Regions from separate parts of the Homo sapiens genome. Here region 1 is linked to region 2. Evidence: fine-mapped expression QTL. A gene starts in region 2. The other region holds a variant in brackets. All regions are shown on one strand. Distances are between the middles of the regions.

Evidence for each region.
Region 1: its variant is fine-mapped to the expression of PHF14 in lung (TOPMed, PIP 0.91).

Annotation. Positions count from the first base shown.
Region 1 is chr7:11,077,718-11,089,099 of GRCh38, forward strand. All of the region lies in intron 16 of PHF14 (PHD finger protein 14), which reads left to right. Among named protein-coding and RNA genes, the nearest start is that of PHF14, 110 kb to the left of the region's middle. The variant C/T (reference allele first, on the strand shown) is at 5,984.
Region 2 is chr7:10,968,652-10,980,033 of GRCh38, forward strand. It overlaps PHF14 (PHD finger protein 14), which reads left to right and starts at 5,221. Exons shown (of 18, transcript NM_001007157.2): 1 at 5,221-5,673; 2 at 6,184-6,294. The coding sequence starts at 5,673. RefSeq lists silencers at 4,416-4,465, 4,976-5,035, 6,016-6,065 and an enhancer at 4,991-5,285.

The DNA.
Region 1 (11,382 bases), 110 kb after region 2:
GTTGTTTTTATTATCATTATTACTATTACTATATTTTGAGAGGCAGGTTCAGTTAAATGAGTGGAGCAATACAAGGTAATAGACAAAGAATTGCAGTCACTTGAAATTTAGTAAGCTTAGCAAGTAAGAACATTATCTATCTCAGAATCTTCATAAAATAAATGTCAGTTTGTTCCTCAGTTGAGAAGTTTTGCACCATTAAGTTGCTTCTCTCTTCAGCGTGCATGAAACTGAGGCTTAAATTTCAAGAAGATATAACCTCAGAATTACATAACCTTAGACTGATCTTTTTCAAGTATTAAAATGCCTGAGTATATGTGGCATGTGGGTATTTTAGTTCACACTGTGGTATTTGAATAGAAATGCTTTCACATTTTTGTTTTCTGACGAAAGAGAAGAGAAGCTATCTAACCTCATTTTTTCCCCTTATTTATCCTTATTCACTTATTCTCTAGGTGGCATGTGTGTCATTAGCTTAACCCTTATTTTTCCCTTAATATTGTTGACATACATGGAGAGGTTTGTTAACTAGGAAAACCAGGATGATTATCCTGCCTCTTTTCTGGGCAGTGATAGTGCATTTAATATTTATCTTAGTGAATAACAGAATATGAACCTCACTTGAAAATTCGGTCAATAACTAACTAGGAAAAATGGTGGGGAGAGGGCATAGAGCTAAAATTAAGAGGTTGAAATTTTGGTTAAGTCTCTGCCAGGGAGAGGCTGTATAACCATGAGAAATGCAAATAACCTCTCTGCGAGCCAGTTTTCTCATTCATAGAATGAGCAATGCATTAGATTGATTTAAAAATCCCTTTTAATTTTCAAATTTCATGATTTTGTAATGCTTCAGAAGTTAAGAAGAGAAAGAAATTCAGAAATGCAAAGTATTATTCAGGTGTAAGGAATGTGAGTCATTTATAGAATAAGCCTCTCACCCAACAGTGCTATTTTTATTTGTATTATTGACCCATCGTATTTTTAAAGTTTTGTTCTTATTTATATATTTTTTAGACTATAGCTTTGAAAAACATGGGAATTAATTATAACGCAGTCACTTTTCATTTATTACTAATTGAGATAAGTTTGTAAGAAACATTTTGTAGTAGAAAATGTTTTAATCTGAAAAATTTGTCTTTTCCTTTCTGTAAAACAAAGTAAATTGAGCTTTTAAATGGACTAAAATATGTAGATTAATATGAATTATATTATCTACATAAGTATTTTTAGCATTTCTCATATTTATTATCTATGTAGCTACTAATGTATGATATATGGTTGCTTTTTATTTTAATTCTTAAGTGCCTAAATTCCTTCTGTGAAAGTTTCAAGGAGCAATTACATTTATCCTAAACTAAGATGAATTAAGGTTATCAGTTTTTGAATGAGCTCTAACTATTACAATGAACTTAAAAGGATTTAATCTAAACATACCTATATATATAGTATGTGCCCTTTCAAAAGGAGCTTCTTCTAATTCTGCTCTATGTCTCTAGACTGACCTCATGTATTATTAATAAAATATCCAGAATTAGGTTGTCTTTGTGAGATGGCTCGGTAGCTGGCTTTTGCCATGGCATATAAGCTGAGCGGTTATTCTAAATCACATCATTACTTTCAGCCAGATAACTGCTAAAATCACCACATTGTGGTTTCCTGAAAATGCCATAATCTTTCAAATGCCACATTAAACCTAGAGGAAAAAGCCATTCGTAGTACCTGCACAGTTATGTAGAAGAATGAACCATGAACCAAGTGAAAAGATGTTCTGGAATAATAGTAACATTTCCCTTGATGTATGTATTTCCTATTACTTTTTTTGACATAAAATTTTGCAAAATGATTTAATGTTGGCATTTTGTTTTGCTGACTTTCTTTTTCTTCATTAAAAAGAAACCAAAGTTAGGATAGAAGTGTAGGGGAAGAGTGACCAAGCACTAAATTCTATAATATGACTCTCTGTTTTCAAAATAAATTAATTAAATATGTTAGGAACATGGCTTTTCTCCTTTTACATTGTATGCTAACTGTGATATACAAAATCATTTAGCTGTATTATCAAAAATGATTTTGTTTGTTCTTTACAGTTAATTTTTTTTTCTTCATTGTCGTCATCCTGTTTTTTCTTCTTAGTAACCTTTGATCATAAATGACATGTCAATAATCAGGAAAGCTTTATGACATAGAAATTACCAATTGCATGTAACTCAAAAAGTGCCATACTTTTGATTGTCACTTTTGTTGCATATTGCTAGAGCTGATTATACAAGGAAACAAAATATGAATAGACTCAGTGGTCTAAAAGATGGATTCTTGTCAACTTTAAGAGGATACATTTTTACTACGAATGAATGTCATAAAGTTATTCCACGTAAAATGAGTTCAAAGTTTATTTGCACCTGTGAGAACATACCAAGTGTAGTTGGATAGAGGAAGTAACTTGCCAAAATAGACTTTGTAAGAATTTTGTAGCATTAGATTTTCAGTTTTAGCTTTGATGTGGAGTACCTAGGTGTAGGCCCTGTCACATCGTTATTTAAAAAACAATAAAATTTAAAAAAAACTTGATAACTTATATTACACGTGCATACTTGTTAACATCTCACTTTAAAAAATGTATTGGGTAGTGATTGACTAAACACTACTTGGTGTTTTTTTCCCCCCTCAGAATTATAGAATTTTTCATAAAAGTTGCAATTTCAATTAAGGGAATGGAAATTGGGTTGAAGTTTCTCAGTCAGTATGGCATCAGTAGTTCCTTTTCACTCAACTAAATAACTTTTTCAGTAGATTTTATTGCTCTTTATGGAACTCTGCAGGTATAGATTAGATTCAGTTTTTAAATAAACATTAACTCTGCTGGTTTTTCTCCCTGATGTCTCAAAATAGAAGGGTTTACATTTAGTCAGCAATTCTTTGTCTTCATTTTATCTTATTTAATTTTTTGCAAACAACTCTTTTCTAGATCAAAAGTACTATTCAGGACATTCTGCAGTGCGGATATATATCCTAATGGTTTCAACCAAAAATGACTGAAGGACTTTGTTAGTGATGTGATTAAAGCATGCCCTAATGAGCAAATGCATTAGAGGGCCATCAAGCACAAAGTCTTGAATTTTGAATATAGCAGAAACAGCTAGTTAATATTACTAATCCATGTGTTAATTGCGCTACAACAGTAATGAAGATAATGTCTAAGACACTGTTGTCATTCCTAGAGTGTTGCTGGTGATTTGGCCTAAGGTGATAGACTAAAATCAAAGACTTCACCATTATACAATTCATTTATGTAACCAAAAGCCATTTATACCACAAAAGCTATTGAAATTAAATATATATGTATATATGTGTGTGTGTATTTATATGTATATATATGTGAGTGTGTGTATATAAATATATGTATGAAACTATAAAAGAAGTACTTGCAAGAAATGTGTCATTCTAGTTTGGAAAACGAGATAAGCACAGAGAAAGTTAAAATCCCTTTTACCCTGGTAGTAGAAAATCAAAGTAGTAAAACTTTTCTGGGGAATAATTTAGCAATGTGAATCAAAGGCATTAAGCATGACAATACTATTTGTAAAGTAACAGCACTTGGAGGACTCTTTCCAGAGGAATATTCTGAAATTAGCTCAATTTTTATATAAGAATATTCTTTATGGTGCTCATTATAATAGTGAAAAATATTTGGAACCAACACAAATGCCTGGTATTACAAGAGTGGTTAAATAAATTAATAATATACCGTAAATTTTCATCCTCTTATTTGACCCCTTATTCAGCCATTTTTTAAAAAGAGTATTTCCTGTGTGGGAAAACATTTAAGTTTAAGTTAGAATCGTCCCATATTTGTTTAAGATTTATCGTGGTGACCCACAACTGTAATCCCAGCACTTTGGGAGGCCGAGGTGGGCGGATCATGAAGTCAGGAGATCGAGACCATCCCGGCTAACAGGATGAAACCCTGTCTCTAGTAAAAATACAAAAAATTAGCGGGGTGTGGTGGCACGTGCCTGTAGTCCCAGCTACTTGGGAGGCTGAGGCAGGAGAATCACTTGAGCCCCGGAGGCAGAGGTTGCAGTGAGCTGAGATCGCGCCACCACACTCCAGCCTGGGCGACAGAATGAGACTCCGTCTCAAAAAAAAAAAAAGAGATTTATGATCTTAATTTTTTATAAATATTTTTATTTCATTTTAAAGCTTTTCTCTATCTTCATAGGTTTTTGATAGTGAAAGTATCTTACTTTTATACCAGAAAACTGGTTTTTAAAAGCTAATAGTGTACGTAGAATTCTAACAGAAGACTCTGGATATTAGATATCTCTTGACTGCCTTAGAAAATCAATTTGAGTGCAGTGGCTCACGCTTGTAATCCCAGCACTTTGGGAGGCCGAGGTGGGAGGATTGCTTGAGCTCAAGAGTTAAAGAGTAGCCTAGGCAATGTATCGAGACCTTGTCTCTAATAAAATTTTTAAAAAATCAGCTGGGCATAGTGACACGTGCCTATAGTCCCAGCTACTTAGGAGGCTGAGGTGGGAGGATTGATTGAGCTTGGGACATATTGAGGCTGCAGTGAGCCATGATCACGTCACTGTACTCCAGCCTGGGCAACAGAGCAAGACCCTGTCTCAAAAAACAAAGCAAACAAAAACATCAATTTAATAAAACCATTATGGAAAGGCATGAAACAAAGTCAATTCTCTTTTTGTTTGTCTATCCTAAATTAGCATAACAAATTTATAAATTTTCTTCCCTCACATTTTCAATGTCTATTTTGCATTATTTGCAGATAAGCTTAATTTTCCCTTGTTATTCAATCATTTATGCTTTCTGATTTATAAATTCAGCATTCAGTGCCTTTCTGATTTAATGACAATGAATTGTTGACTTGTACTTCCCAGTCTTCCTTATATCACAATTACTAGAAGATAAAGAGTTGGGGATAACTAAACATACTCAGTTTATCCTGACCAAATAGATATTTCTCCATTTCCTTCTTTATCACACATAGTACTTCCACTCAGCTATGTCAGGAGCCTCTCTTTAGTCTCAGCCTTCACACTCAGTAGAATTTTGGTTTCATTTTTTTCTTCTGTGTGGGATATGACAAGATTTCTCTTCAAATAGCCTATTAATCCTTTATTCTTTAATCCACAGTACCCCTCCCCTTCCCTTTTCTTCTCTTTTTCTTTCTTTCTGCCTTTACTACATGCCCAGGCATGCCACAGCACCAATGGCTTATCAGTACCAGCTCACATTCCTTTCCTTATTTGGGAAGAAAACTAGCTCTCTAGCTTATCACAGATGACTTCTACCCCCTCTCCCCTCTCTCCCTTATGTGCACACCTTATCTAAGAAAAAGTTCAAATGTTCAGAGAATCGGGTCTAGCTTAGATTGTGCAGTCCAACCCCAGCCAATGGGGAAAGGGCACAGGGGCAGGATTTGCGTCAGGGATAAAAACTTTAACTCTCCTTTTGGTGACTGGCCAAAGAGAAGCACCCCTCTGTGCAGAAGTAAATTTGCTTTGCTGAGAAATCCTTTGTCTGAGTGTTTGTTTTCCTTAAGACTCCAAGCTTTATTTCTGACATTCTGGAATTATAGTTTGGAGTCTTATTCCTCACTTATATTGTGCTTTACCTTCTAGGTGTGTGCACACCGTCTCTCTTTCTCCCCGCACTCCCACCCCGTATCATCGTGACTGGAAAGCCACAGGAAGTTGCCACATAGAAATATTCTGCTTTCCCTATTTTTTTTTTTTTTTTTTTTTGATACAGAGCCCTTGCTCTGTCGCCCAGGCTGCAGTGCAGTCTCGGCTCACTGGAAACTCCGCCTCCCAGGTTCAAGCAGTTCTCCTGCCTCAGCCTCCCGAGTAGCTGGGATTACAGGTGCCCGCCACTACGCCCGGCTAACTTCTTTGTATTTTTAGTAGAGACAGGGTTTCACCATCTTGGCCAGGCTGGTCTCAAACTCCTGACCTCGTGA[C/T]CCACCCCCTTGGCCTCCCAAAGTGCTAGGAGTACAGGTGTGAGTCACCACACCTGGCCTGCTTTCCCTAATTTTACCTAATGAGAATTCTTATTTGGGATAGAATCACTTAGTAAGATAATTGTAAAAATGAGCGGTTGCCAGTAAAACCAGTGGGGCTGTACAAAAATTGGCTAGATTTAAGCTAGGAGAAAATAAATAATGGAGGAAAGCATTCCAGAGGAGAAGATGGGATGCCCGTCTGGGGCAATAGGTAGATTCAAGCAAAGTTTATGGAGAACTTTATCTGAAACAGCACAATTTGTGGTTGTTTTTATTGGAGTATAACATTACATAAGGATATGAGAAGATACGTTAAAGACACTATTTTTACAAGCATTACTATCTGTTTAAAATGTAGTAAAAATAATTACAGAACTTAAACTTCAAAGTATTTACAACCATTACTATTTGTTTAAAATAGAGTAAAAATAATTACAGAACTTAAACTTCAAAATATGTACACACACACAATCTGAAAAAATGTTAGAAAAGCAAATGTTTCAGCATACACAGATAGCCATTTATTTTGAAGATAATAGCAATTAGAACATAAGTATTACTTTATTGGATTTATTTTTAAAGGACCAAGTGTTATTTTCTTCTTACATCCTCTAAACCTGTCCCTTTGAGGGCACAGAATTAGTATATCATCATCCATACTTCTTTCCTCTAAGTACAAACAAAATATTCAGGGCCTACTGGTGGCCTCCTCTTTTCATTCCCATTCTAGCTATTATAGGGTTTACTCTTGTGTTTTTTTTTTTTTTTAACTTCACAATGCATAATGGACTTTTTCTCAGTAAATATAGAACTAAGCCAGTTTTTAAGTAGCTACAAAATATAATTTGGATGTATCATAATTTACTGTAATATTTCCCTATTGAAAATTTATTTTTTCCTGTTTAATTTCTATCCCAAAGTAAGTGTGCTAGGCCAAAATTATATGCATATTTTACATGTTAATGGATAATATTATCTTGTTACCCACTGGACATGAATGTGTAATGATGTCATAGCAGAGATTTTTGTCAATTTGATGGATGAAAATTGGCATTTTGATTGTATTTTGTAACAATCAGTTTCAATGTTTATTCACTCATATATTGATGAACCATTTGGATTTTCATATCTGTGAATTGCCTTTCCATATCCTTTGCCGCTTTATCTTTGGAGATTTTTTTTTCTTTTTTAAAAATGAGTTTATTACATATCTTTGTATAAGTTGCAAATATTTTCTTTAAGGTTGTTGGGTTTTTTGTTTGTTTTTGCTTTATTGCTAATGGTATGTTTTGCTGAATTGAAATTTACATTTTTTTGTGTTGTGATATTTATGTCTGAAAAACTAAAACCTAATTTGGTATGTTATGAAATAGACAACAGATATATATTATTTAGGCAGGAAATGCAAATTATCTGTCTTTGCCCTTTAGATGATCTATGTACAGTTTTGCTTGACATGTTTTAAAGATTTACTGAGATACTGTGTCATCTATAAATAATTTTTTAATTACACATTGCGACATTAGCTTAATATAAAAATACTGTTTTGCTTTACCAGAATGTCATATTCTTCTGTTGATTTAAAACAATTTATTAGTTTTCAGAGGCTCTATTTTGTTAATTTTTGAATATCAGGACTGCTGATTTTAAAACATGTTGAAGCTATCATTGATGTAACCTTTTGTGTAATGTATTGGATCTTAATGGTGTTGGATACATGTTTGGTGATTAATTCTAAAGGCAAAAATTATTGTTTCTATTGTAGATGTCAGTGGTGAACAATGAATTGCTAAATTTAATCGTTTTTTAATTTTCTAAATACTCATCCTATTTGGCCTCGTTTCAACATTTAACATTGGTGACCAACCTTCCTCCTTAAAACACTATCTTTTCTTGGTTTTGTTTTTTTCCTTTTTTTTGAGACAGTGTCTCACTGTGTTACCCAGGCTGGAGTGCGGGAACTGCAGGTGTGTGCCTGGCTAATTTTTGTGTTTTTTTAAGAGACAGGGTCTCACTATATTGTCCAGGCTAGTCTTCAACTCCTAGGTTCAGTCCTTCCACCTTGGCCTCCCAAAGTCCTGGGATTTGCTACTGATAAGTACAGTTTTTTTTAACCCTAGTTTTTATCAGTAGCAAAACATAATAGTTTAAAAAAAAAACTGTGGTTAAATGCTTGAATTCTGGAGCCTAGTTATTTGGGTTCAGATTTTCACCCAGCATTTATTAGTTGTAACTTGTCTAGTTACATAATCTTTGTGCTTTAGTTTCCTCATCTGTAAACCGAGGATAATAATCTTTTTTACCTCTAGAATTGCTGTGAGGATTAAATGAATAAAAATATGTAGTGCTTATTCTCCTTCATCAACTCTCTCCTGGACCGTTGCAATAACCATCACCTTCTCTAGTTTGAGTACCTCTAGTCTGTATCCAGTTGTCTTACTAAAACATGAATTTGTTACTATTGTACTCAAATTTGTCCAGAGGCTTCCCATTTCTTGCAAGGTAAATCTAGACTGTATAGCATGGCTTATAAGGCCCTCCAAACCCAGCCTCAGTCTGTCTTTTTGTTTTCATTTCCAGCTGTTCACAGCTCCAGGTGACCTAAATTTAGATCATCGCAGGTCATTTTTTCTTTCTAAAACTAACCTGTTGCTTTTATGCCATCTTGCTTTTATTATACTTTATGTTATACCTTCTCTCTGAAATAACCTCGTCTTTTTCTCTGGGATGAGGGCTTCTCAATCACTTATACTTAGTCCATATGTCTTGGTCAGTGTATGATTCTTAGTGTATAAGCACCATTTTTTAATAATTAAATTAATTTTAATATTCCAGGTCCGAAGCCAATGCTTATCACATAGTATGCCCCCAGTACATAACCAAATTGAAAAAACAATCTGTGGATTTTAATTAGTGGTACTTATTTAATATTTTAAAAGTTATAATTGTCAGATATTAATGGGATCTTGGCTTAGTTATGTTATTTTTATATACAAAACATTGAAATTTTGGTTAGATTGGAATGGTAGTTTTTGTCATCATTTGAATATAATTTGTATAGTAATTTAATTCATTGTTTTCATGGCTTTTATTGTTCTATGTGTATGATACCTATTAAATTCTTACTTGAGTTTTATTACTCTTAGTCCTCTTGGGTTTCTATGGATAGTACCTATTTCACTGAAATCTCTGCGTTATCTTTAATCTAAAAATATGTATGTACTATTAGTTTTTGCTAATTTTTACGTGGGGTAATATCAAGTCAGTTAAATTAGATCTCACTACATCTTAATCCAGTTTTGGGTAGCATAAAATAAATAAGGGTATACTTTGTTTGTAAAGTCCCTGGGTTCCCTTTTCATTCTATTCTGAAAGAAATTTGTTAACAAATTGAGAACTCCTAATTTAGCTTCCTGGAGTGATTTTATGGTAATAGAAAGCACTGCCCTTCTTTCTTTTTTTTTGTTAAGATGGAGTCTCGCTCTGTCATCCAGGCTGGAGTGCAATGGCACGATCTTGGCTCACTGCAACCTCTGCCTCCTGGGTTCAAGCGATTTTTCTGCCCCAGCCTCCCGAGTAGCTGGGACTACAGGCGCACACCACCATGCCCAGCTAATTTTTATATTTTTAGTAGAGACGGGGTATCACCATGTTGGCCATACTGGTCTCGAACTCCTGACCTTGTGATCCACCTGCCTCGGCCTCCCAAAGTGCTGGGGTTACAGGCATGAGCCACTGCGCCTGGCCAGCACTGTTCTTCTTTCTTGACCTGGTTTTTTTGTTGTTGTTTTAGATATAGGTACTATGATATTGGGCCATAATCTTTGGCTTTGCTCCAATGATTGACTTCTAAGGAATCTTTACTCACGCAATTATTCCTTTTACTGACTATTGCTAATTATATTGTGGATTATAACCACAACTATATTTGACTCCCAGTGGTCTTCTCACTTAATAATCTCTGTGTGTTTTCATTTGGCCCATGCTTCATCTGTGTGTGTGGTGTGTGTGTGATACATATGGACACATGTATGAGACTCTGTCACTCTTTTCTGGCATTGGATAAACATTTTGAAATATGCAATAAGAAATAAATAATTTAGGAACATTAGGATTATTTTAAGAAGTCGAATGGGGGCAAAAAGATTTTTAAAGTGTATAACTTGAAACTAACATAACAATTAAAAGTTACCCAGGGCAATTATTTATAAAACATAATTTTATAAGTTCTAATTTATAGAATAGTCCACTTTGTTTAATTCAGTATAAAATATAACTTTGCAGAGTTATCATTATTACAGTCATCCCTCCATATCCGTGGGGCATTGATTCCAGGACCGCTCTCGGATATCAAAATCTGAAGATGCTCAAGTCCCTTATGTAAAATGCCATCATGTTTGCATATAACCTATGCATATGTTCCTGTATGCTTTCAGTTATCTCTAGATACTTATTATAATACCTAATACAATGTAAATGCTATGTAAATAGTTGTTATACCATATTTTTTTTATTGTTGTATTGCTATTTTTTATTGGGTTTATTTTTCCCAAATATTTTCCATCCATGGTTGGTTGAATCCATTGATGCAGAACCTGCAGATATGGAGGGCAGACTGTATTAACTTCAGAAGGTAATGTGTGTTGTTCACATACACACAAACACACACACACACGCACACACACACACAGTCCTATTTCCCAACATGAGAAATTGTCAAATTTTTATGCATTAATAACTAATGAAAATAACAGAGTATTTTTGTTTTCATCCATTTTTAAATGTCTTTTATAAATGTATTTCATTTGTAATCCTGCTTTTTCATTTTAATGAAGAATTTCATTTTCTTACTGTTTTGGTTTTGTTAGTCATGAAATTTTTTTTAATCATAATAACCCTCCTGGGAATTTATCATAAGGAAATAGTCAAAGAAAGAAATGCTAATATAAAAAGACATTTATAGCTATAGTTATAGTAGGAAAATTATTCCCACCGTAAATATATAACTCCCCAAATTAAAACAACTGAAAACACTGTATAGGAGGGGAGTGATAAACTATAACAAATCAGTATTAAAAAATTATGTATCTCCTATAGATTTATAGATTATAAGATATTTACATAGGAATGAGGAAACCTGTTTTATGTCATAAGTATATGCTACTAAATTGTTACATATAAGTGGCTAAAGATTAGAAGGGAACAAAAAATGAGCATGGTATTATTTTAGAATGGTAGGAGTCTGAGTAAAGTAAAATCTTCAACACCATTTTAAGGACATTAATCTCATGAATGTAACATTTAAGTAGAGCCTCATTTTGAGCACAGACAGACACAAAGATTAATTAGATATAAAA
Region 2 (11,382 bases):
TGTGTGTTTGTTTGTAGGGTTGAGGAAGTTGGTGGTATAGGGAGGTTACATGTGAGTAGGCTCTTCTTTATGATTTATGAGTAGTTTCTATGCTGGATCTTCCTATTTCAGCTATTAAGACAACTGAAAGTCAGTGAGGTTACTATCAGTCTCCTTCCTATAAACCTGTTTTCCATTCTGGTAATCTCTGAAGTTAGACTTCCCCCTTAGTAGAGCTGTATTTGAAGTTTTATTCAGGAGAGAAATGCTATTTTCAGCTCCTCTGACAACAGAATTACTATGTGGCTCTTTTCCTTCTAATGAATTATCCAGTCTATTGTCCAAGTCTCAGCCCTTCTCACAACCCTCATTGTCTCTTACCTAAGCGTTATGCAGAGAATGTATTGGAAAAACTCACTTTAGTGATTCTTCTCTTTGATGATTCATCACCTGGATGAATTTATTAGCTCCTTAGTCTGTTGGATTTTGTTGGCAATGTGGACCTACTTCCAGAACTGTCAAAATTCCTCCATAGCCCTCAAAAGTCTGCTGGTGACATTACTCTCAGGTTTATAGCAATGCTATGATTTTATGGATTTATTTCTATTTGTATATTTCTTCTGTGATTTCTGTGTATTTTGGGGAGGGTAGTGAGGTAATTCACAAGTTCAATTAGTTTAATTAGTTGTGAACCAGCACTATTATCCTTAGATTTACAGCAAACTAATTTTACTTTCTTGGTTTCTTAAAAAATTAATCAGGATCTGCAGTTTCTCTCTCAACAAAATAAGACAATTCATTTTTTTCTTCATTTATCTTATTTTACTTTCCCTAGGCACTTCATCTCTTTACCCCCTACATCTTGGATTTGGTTACCGTAATTTAGAATTATGACCCCTCTAGTTTGCATATCCTTGCTTAATAAAACTGTATTAAATCCCACAATCTCAGTGTTGACAATTATTCACAATTAATTCTAACTTATTTTCTTTTTCTCTTACATCATTTTTTCATTGCATGTCCTCTAATTTCTTGGATTTAAAAGACTTTTTTCTTAGAGTAATTTTGGAAATAGGGTACACTGTTATCTGCTTCTCAAAACTTTAAGTAACCAGACAGGTTATTAATATTATTTCCAGATTCTGGGTGATGAATCAGAGGCTCAATGTTGCCTTTTTTTAGGGTAACACAAATTCAGTGGCCAAGCCTAGACCAAAATTCGGATCTCCAGACTCTTAAGTTTGCTGTCTTTTGTATACATATTTGTTTCTTTTTCTTACAGTAGGTGTCCACAACAAGCTATTTATTTTACTATCTTTTGTTGGAGTAGTTTGAAAGACCATTTCTGAATATAGAACTCTGCTTTTCATAATTATTACTGATGCTTGTGCAGTCATATTTAGTTTGCTTAATTAGACAGAATTGTGGACATTAAGAATATTATTTGGCAAAATCCTACATTGAGGCAGTTTGTGCTCGCTGTTTTTTGGAAATGATAATTATTATATAATTCTTCTTCTTTGTGTAGTCATGCATAAATATCTTGAATTTGAATACCTGGCAACTAGAATAAAAGAGAAACATGATGGATTACATAACATAAATATTCTACCAAGAAGATGGCAGAGCATTAGGAGACTCAAAATTTTCTGAGTTAAGGCTGGGTGCAGTGGCTCACACTTGTAATCCCAGTACTTTGAGAGGCTGAGGTGGGCGATCAGTTGAGGTCAGGAGTTGAAGGCCAGCCTGGCCAACATGGTGAAACCCTGTCTCTACTAAAATTATAAAACTTAGCCAGGGATGGTAGCAGGCATCTGTAATCCCAGTTACCAGGGAGGCTGAGGCAGGAGAATCACTTGAACCTGGGAGGCGGAGGTTGCAGTGAGCTGAGATTGCTGCCACTACACACTCCAGCCGGGGCAACAAAGCAATACTCCATCCCCCTACAGCTCCCCCAAAAAATTCTGAGTTAAGAATGCCAAGAGTAATTTATCACATACGCCTTAAAGATGTTCAGCAGAATATTATTGGAGATGCTATTATAGCCAGTTTACAACCAATAAAGACAAATTCTTTATATGACATCAAAATGTAATTTCCTTTATAAATATGGGTGCAAAAATCAACAAAATACTAGCAAACTGAATCTAGCATCTATAAAAAGATTTATACAACATGACTAAGTAGAATTTATACTAGAAGTGCAAGGTTGATTAAACAAATAAAAATCAAGCAATATAGTAATATACTATATTGAAAAAATAAAGTACAAAAATCACATGATCATCTCAATAGACAGAGAAAGAGTATTTAATAAAATTCGAAGCTCTTTCATGATAAAAACAGTTGGCAAACTAGGAACAGGAAAGTTCCTCCACCTGAAAAAGGGCATCTTTGAAAAACTATAGATAACATAAGACTAAGTGGAAGACTGAAAGTTTTCTTCCTAAAGTCAGAAACAAGACAAAGAAGTCTTTCCCTCACCACATTTATTCAACAATGTTCTGCAGGTTCTAGGCAGAGCAATTAGGCAAGAAAAAGCAATAACAAGCATTCACAAAAGGGAGGGAAAAGTTCAAGCCCCTTCATTTAATATCATTTCCTGGAAGTTGCACGTACTGTTTCTGCTGACATGCAATTGGCCAGAACTTAACTGCATAACTCCAAGCAACATCAAGAAAGTTGGTATATTATGTCTTTATTCTTTGAAAACTTATGCCCAGTTAAAATTTGGAGCTTCCATTTTTGAAGAAAAAGGAGATAATGGGTATTGGGAAACAACCAGCAGTTCTTTCCATGTTTATTGAATGCAGGTCAAAAAAAGGAATTAGGTAATTTTTTTCTTTTCTTTTTACCCTACTTTTCTTCTTCCTTTTTCCCTCCCTCTCTTCCTTCCCTCCTTTTCTCCTTCTTTCCTTCTCTTACTTTCTTTCAATACATGAATTGCAAAAGATTAATAACCTAAATGCAATATTGTCTTCTGGATTGGATCTTGGAACAGAAAAAAGGACATTAGTAGGAAAATTAGTGAAATATAAATAAAGTGTTTAGTCAACAAAACTGTACTCATGTTAGTTTCTTAGTTTTGATAAATGTATTATGGTTATATAAGATACTGATATTAGTGGTAGCTAGGTGAAGGATGTACAAAAACTCAGTATTATTATTGCACTTTTTGGTAAATCTGAAATTACTTCAAAATTAAAAGTTAAAAAAAAATGATTGCTGATATCCAATGGCCACAGGTTTGGAAAACTAGAAAGAATTCTTATCCACTCTTGGTGGTATATATATTAGTACAGACTTTTTTTTTTTTTTTTTTGAGACGGAGTTTCACTCTTGTCACCCAGGCTGGAATGCAGTGGCGTGATCTCTGCTCACTGCAACCTCTGCCTCCCAGGTTCAAGTGATTCTCCTGCCTCAGCCTCCCAAGTAGCTGGAATTACAGGTATGTGCCACCACGCCCAGCTAATTTTTGTATTTTTAGTAGACACGGGGTTTCATCATGTTGGGCAGGCTGGTCTCGAACTCCCAACCTCAAGTGATCCACCCGCCTCAGCCTCCCAAAGTGTTGGGATTACAGGCGTGAGCCACCGCACCCGGCAGTACAGTTTTTCTAGAGCAACTAGGTGTTATTTATTAAAGTAAATGAATTAATACATTTTGATTCTGAAAATCTCCTTCTAGAAATTAGTTTTACATAAACACGAATGCCAGATTTTGAATTTCTCTTTTAGATGATTCAGCATAATTGCTCCAAATAAATCTAAAAGGCTATTGTCAAACAGTGGAATATTTGGATTTATAATTTCATAGATAAGACTATCAGTCCATGATATGGTTGGTGTTTAAAGTAGAATGGAAGTGAAATTCCCAGAGTGGAGTTTTTAAAATAACCAAGTTCCTAGGATTTTAACTGGAAGAATAAATATCTGAAAGGCAATGAGGAGTATTAAGCATGGGATGCCACTTCTGCACCTTGAGAAAATGAAGTATGGAAGGATGAGTGGTTTTCATTTGAGAGGGCTGCAGGGTAACTGTTTCTATTTCAGATGAGGAGGTAAAAAGAATGGGCATTGAAAAGGAAAAATGTTTACTAAGTAGGTTATACATTTTGGAATAGAAGTTTCTATAGCACAATAGAAAAGTTTGAGAGGTCACATGGCAATGATAGTTTGGGTGAGAGTGAGGCAGGAGAATAGGGTGTGGAGGCAGGGAACCTAAGGATGTGTCACTCCGACTTCCTAAGAACTAAATTGAAAGGAAACCCCTAACTTTCCATGCCTAAGTAACAAAAGGACCAGAGGCTACTCCCTTTGCAAACCCCCACTTTTTCTGCAGGGCAGATGGGAAATTGGCTGTGGGCAGCAAATCAGACTGATTGCAGGAGAGTCTTCCTTTGCATAGAAGTATCACTTTGTAACTTCACCATCTGCAAGAAATCAAACTGATTGCAGGGGAAATCTTCCTTTGCATAGAGGTATACCACTTTGTAACTTCACCCTAGCCTCTGATTGATTGCTTTTTGCACCAATGTTTGCACAGGAGCATGACCTTTGTAACTTCACTTCAGCCTCTGGTTGGCTGCTTTCTGCAACCAATCAGACTGATTGCGCGTTACTTCATTTACATGAGGTGAGCATTAGGTGGCCAATAGGAAGCTTCTAGAGGGTATTTGGACTCAAGATTCTGTATCCGGGCCCTTGAGCCGCTGCTCAGGTCGCTTCCGTACAGAGCGTGCTTTAATTTTCAATAAGTCCCTGCTTTTGTTGTTTTGTTGCTTCATTCTTTCTTTGCTTTGCTGGGCGTTTTGTCCAATTCTTTGTTAAAAACGCCAAGAACCTGGACAACTTGCAGTCACGATCCTCTACCGGTGACAATATCATTTAAATATTGGTAGTGGCTTAAGGTAGCAAACATCCCTTTGTGGAACGTTTACTCAGTAAATCCTTAAAAAACAGATCAGAAACAAAAACTGGCCTCCCAGGGATTTGGACTCAGGAGGTGAATTAGGCGCGGAGAGGGCGGAGCCTTTGGGGTTTATGGGCGGAATTGCACAGGGTTTGGCGGGGATCTCTGCTCCGCCTTGGCACTACTCGGCTCCGCTCGCCTCCGCGCGGCTCCCTGGGCTTTCACTCGGCTCTGTTCGGCTCCTGCTCGGGAAGGGTGCGCGGGGGCGAGTCCTGCGCATGCGCCCTCAATTCCTGCTGCTCTCAGGGCTGCGCTCAGCCTCGTGTTTTCACTTCCTTTTCAGAGCTGTATCCGGGTCGCTGCTTTCCCTATTGTCTGAGGCAGCCGCCCTCGCGCTGTGCAATTTCTGGTCTTTCGTTGCTTCTGGTCCAGGCTAATAAAGTTTTTCTTTCTTTAATTTTTTTTCTTCTAGTTTTAACGGGAGAAATTAACTCCCCGGGGCCGCCGGGTTGACTGCGCTGCCTGGGCCGGAGGTCTTCTCCGGCCAGGGAGCGCTGTGGGAAGGGGCTCGAGCGGCCAGGGCCAGGCGAGGCCGGGGGGGCGGGGGGTTAGGGGACCGCGGGGCTACTCTTGGGAGCGCCCCTGTCCGGCTGGCTGCGCGCCGGTTTTAAATAGCATCTTTCGGACTTGTCTTCGCGGCCCCAGTCCCCGACCTCGGCGCTGCCTGGGCTCCTGCAGCCTCTCCCTAAGTCTTCTCCAAACGACCACCTCACGGATTCCTTAGTAAGTGTATCCGAGGCCTCTGCGGCGAGAGGTCCATTTCAGCCATTCTAGAAGTCAGGGCCGGTGGGAGCAGGGCAGGGGTGGGAGAGTCCTGCGGGAAAGCAGGATTGGTGGACCCTCGCCCTCCATGGTCCGCGGGAATGAAGCCCGCTTGTTTTATTCCCTGATTTTTGCCGTTTTTATTGACTGTTACGATGTCTAAGTGGGGGATTACGAGGAAGGTGCAGAAACATCTCGAAAAGATGAGCAAGAGGGTCAGCTTCGATTTTAGCTGGTCTGAGTTGGCGTTGGCAGCATCAGGGCTGGAGCTGCCTTTGAAACTGCCCGTGGAGCTGTCCAGCCCTCCCCACCCTGCTTCTGCACCCCAACCTTCTCCTGACCCCTTTTGCTGAGAACTCAGTTAGACAAAAATTCCTTGTGCGAGGTCATCTTTATGTTCTCTTAGCACCACAACTCTCCCCTGTGTTTGGTGTGATTATGAATGACAATGTAATTTTTTTCTCTTCACAGTGGATCGCAGCTCCAAGAGGAGGCAGGTGAAGCCTTTGGCAGCTTCTCTGCTGGAAGCTCTTGATTATGATAGTTCAGATGACAGTGATTTTAAAGTTGGAGATGCCTCAGGTAAATATTTCCTTCTCTCTTCCCCTTTCCCAGCTTTCTGGAGTTAGGCTTATTTTTAGACTTTTTAAATCGGTTTTGATTAAAATGCCAATTTTAAGTGAAAGCACGTAAACTTCATTTATTTTGTCCATTTGATTTCCCATTTTGCCTTTAGATCCTGTCACTAGACCTATAATTGCTTCTGTTTTCCTCAGAGATAATTAGCAGTCAGGGGAAGGACTTTTTCCAAAGATGCAAAAGGATTTCTCTGTTTTACACCTTAAAATATATTTATGCTTATATTATAGAGGAAAAAACTGAAAGATATCCCGAAGTAGAAAAGTATCCTGAGAGGTGTGTGGACCATTAATAGTCCCTGAGCAGGGTTCTTCTTTTTTCAGATCACTTGACAATCTCTTAGGGGAGTTTTGCTTTTTTTGTGTATTAGCTCTTTTACTAGAATAAAATTGACCAGAGTAAGAGTTGCACTTCAAATTATAGTAGGTGCTGGACCTTGTGGATTGGGCCTTTCAGATGTCTCTGAAGTATAAGTCATGCATGCTTGCTCACTATATTTAGTAATTTTAAAAACTTTTTTTAAAGGTCGTATATTCACATTGTACTAAACTGGAAAACAGAAAAGTATGATTTTCCTTTGTATTTTCTGTTCAGTGTACCTTATGTATATATACAGTTTCAATTGAAGGAATCTGAGAAACAAAAATTATGTTTAATTTAAATGTTTTATGGGAAAAATACTGATAAACATGAACAATGAAAATTATGTGTAATTCCACCTCTTTTGAAAATTTTAATAAAGTGAGATGAAAATTTAAATAAAATGAGAAGTAAAAGCCTTTCCAGTTTCATCTCTTCAACAGTTTTTAAATATACTTCCAGAGAGTTTGCCGTGGTTAGTCACATCTCTCCTTCTTCTGGTTTTCCCTTGTCTTTTTCCTGCTAGGGATAGTAGGAAGGGATGAACGAAATTATATTACTGTTGCTACTTTTAGTAGCATCAACAGCAGAATTTGCATTGTGATTTACTGATAACTTTTTGTTTGCATAATCTCACTTAATTTTCACAGTAACTTAGTGAAGGAGATACCATTTTACAGGTAACAGGGGTATTGAGTTTAAAGAACTGGCATGAGGTCACTCAGGCAGTAACGGATCCAATGGATTTGACTTCAGAATTTAGTCTGTTTATCTGCTTGGATCCCAAGAGTTGATGGACGGAATCTTAAACAGAAACTGACTATTTGGTTACTAATTGAATTCATCCGCAGCAATCAAAAATTGATAAGTTTATCTTGATTAACTGTTTTTTTATCCTTTGCTTCTCAGCTCTTTATCTCCCATTTAGTTGGTTTGCTGATATTTGGTATTTCCAAAGAAGGGAAGGGGAAGGGAAAGGAGGTAAAATTTAAATCTTAGTTCTCTTGGTAAAGACCTTGGCAGATAAGAATATTCCTGGCTAGGATGTAGTTTTGGTTTGTTATGGTTGTGGTTGTAAACTTTGACAAACATAGTTGGGTCGTGGAAGTTACGAATTCTTTGAATATGGGAACAATTCTAAAACTTACATTAAGTATTACATTATTATGTGACAATAAATCTTGACTTTATGGACAATTTGTTTCCAAGGTTTGTTCATTGAGATGGAATATTCACAGGTATCACTTCTTTTTCAAGTGGTAAAACAATCTGATACAAACATAAAGTACTTTCTCAAAATATTTTATGATATCGAGCTAAGTAGAGATTTCTGACCTTGTTAAATCCTAATTATAGTTGAAGAGAACTGTTATTTGTGAAAAATGATAGGATGAGTTTTGTTAGGTTGATATATCTATATATCCCTTAAACACACTAAAAATATTTACTTTCTGTTCCCTCTTGTAATATAATATCTAGTATGCTGCACTCATAATTTACCTTCCTGGCCCCCTGGGGAGCTTAAATTTGTGATCTGTGGTCTCAGGTCACAAATTTGTATGTATAGTTCTTGGTATTTATTGTAAAAGGGAATTTAGAAGAAAATGATTGTATTTAAAATGATTAGTAGTCAACAGAAATTGAATCATATTTTTGACTCTTGTTTTAGGTGCATTGATGCTCTGCATAGCTGAGATATTCGCTTACTCTAGATTACCATTGTTTTCCATTTGAATCTTTTCTGTGCCTGAGATAGTATATATTTAGTTGGAGTCTTGTAGAGAATAAGACATTAGTCCTATCACTGGTTTCCAAACATGTTGAAGTTGTGGATTCCCAGCCCTACTTACGAATAGGAGATTAAATTGGAAGTAGAGAAATGGTAGCTAAACATCTGTCTGATCATATCTTCTTTCAAAACAACTTCTAGAAATGACTCATTGAATGAACTACGGACTTCCTTAGAACTTAATATTAAAGTGGTTAGATTCGTTGGCCTTAATTTTGGCTAACTGGATTCCGTGGATCAATTTCTTCTTACCTTCATCTTGAAATCTGAAATTCTGACTATAAAACTTTTTATATTTCTGTTTGGTTTTAAGAATAAATATAGAAAACATTTGCAGATAAACATAATTTAACTCTATCATAAAATAGAAACAAATCAACATTGGTAAAGAATGACCCACCCATAAGATTGGCAAGTGATTACGAGCCTGTACCTTTAGAAAATTATGAAACTGAAGATAGTTTATATTTTATTTTTAATGCAAAAGCAAAAGTAAGCTTCTCATTTTTGATTGAAAGCAGTCAATAAAGTTTGAAATGAGTAAGTCCTAAAATAGGATATATATGCATTATTAGAATTATGGTGATAACCACCAGAAGAACCATATGTAGAAATGTTAGGTTGAACTATATGGAATTACCAGTTTTGTAGGTCCAAAACACACAGTCAAATATTAGCAATTTCATGGTTTTACCTAGTTAAAGTGTTGATATTTGAGACTTGGGCATAGGGTTGGGTGTATGATAGGAGACTTATTTACATTTGGTTATCTGCTACATTAATTGAATGTTTTAAAGAATGTTTACATCTTTTTAAAGATGCAGACATGTATTACTTCTATTAACCAGACAGATTAGCCATGCTCTCTACCCCTATCCCCCACCAGGCAAAGTAAAATGGGGTTAACTTTAGATCTTGATCAAAAGTTAGTTTAGTTAGGCCATATTGCCAGGAAATAATTTAATGAGAAGTGTCAGCCTGAGACTTTGGTGGTATTTTGTGCTTAATCTGACTTTGAATAAGTGGACCAAGATGTGTTCATTGATTGTCCGTAGTTTAGCCCTTTGCTAGATGTTATGGTGAATTTACAAAACAGTAGTAATAATATTAGAATAAGTAAGTAAAATAACATGTAAGTAAAATAAAAATTAGAATAATTAAATAAAATAGTTGATACAAAGGATGGTTGATCACTTGTGTAGTTCAAGTCTTTAATAGGAAATGAGATTAGATTGATGTAGAACAATTTCATTGAGGAGAGGAGGTAAGAGTGGAACTATGAACAGAAGGATTTAGATAAACAGCAATCTTGGTGAGGCAAAAATTAAAAGTGTTGAGACTTGGAATTGTTTTTTTATATTTGGGGATCAGTGTTGAGTAAAAGTAGAAGAGATAAGCCTGGAAAAATAGAATAAGGTCAAATTGTGGCTGTATATACGAGTTAATGGTTTCTCAACCTTGGCGCTATTGGCATTTTGTGTTGGATAATTTTTTGTTGTGGAGGCTTGTCCTGTACCCAGTAGGATGTTTAGCAACAACAACCTTTTCCTCTACTAGATGCCAGTAGCATCTTTCCTACCTGCCCCAGCCTCACCTCCACCTCCACTTCCACTGTTGTGGCAACTATTGTTTCCAGACATTGCCAGTTGTCCTCTGGGGGAAAAAAATGTTCCCGTTTGAGTACCACTGGCTCATACAAACCAAGATGACATAGCTGGAACTAGAATCGGAAGTGGAGGATGAGTTGTGTTGACTGATTGGCTGTCTTCAAGACATATACGGTTTTGGTCAAACATAGCCCTGGGATAGCTGTAAATAACTAGTAGAATAGTGATTGATCTGTTATCTATTGTGTATATTTATAGTACTAACACTGTTGTACCAGATCAATGAACAGAATTAGATTGATGAAATTGATGAACAAATTTATATTGCATATATTGTATATTAGCATAAAACTAAATTAAATCATATTGATTTTGTTATGGGGAGAACATTGGATATAATGGTATTGATGGTTGATATTAATTAAATTAATTTTTATTTTATTATTTGATATTGTAAAGGGATTCTTGAAGGTTGGTGTTTTAAATTCTAATTTTAAAATTTATTTTATTTTTTTGTCTGGCCATTACCACTCAGAGGAGTTTTTAAAAATTCTGTAATGGTAAAAAATTTCTTAACTGTCTGTTAGTTGAAATAGCTGTTGCTTGGAGAGATTCTGATATATTGTATGTTTGAGAAAGGTTATCTTTTATTTAACCAAATGGGAAGTAGGATTTCAATTTTAAAGATATATTTTTTTCAAACGTAAGAAAGGTTTATTGTAGACTTGAAATTAACTCTTTCTGCCTAAGATAATTTCTCCAGTATATTTCTTTTTTTCCTTTCCTTTCTCTCTCTTTTTTTTTTTTTTTTGGAACATAGCACAGAGTCATTCTTTGATGACTAGGAAATTTTGTCTTTGCAGCCTATGGAAAAAATAGCCAAGGGCCTTGATTTTTCTCATTGTCATTATTACCCAGCTATGGTTGTAAATAAATATGGTTTATCTCCATTCCTCCAGTGCATATGTACAAAAAAGAAATAGTGACTAATTAGATGAAGAAGTTATTTTTCAGATATCAGAGAAAGATAAGATTTGATGTATTGCTGATCCCTATAGAAAGATAAAATTTGATATATTGCTGATCCCTGTAGTTGGAGTCTGACTAATGTACTATATTTGGAGAATGAGGGGTTGGGTAAGCTATTAGGAGTTGGTTTTGTGGAAAAATGTCCATTCTTCTAATAATAGTTAACAAACATAAAACATTAAAAATTTTTTAAAAAATTGCTTTCTATTCAGGCATGGTTATAAATCAAAAACAGAATCAAGGAGT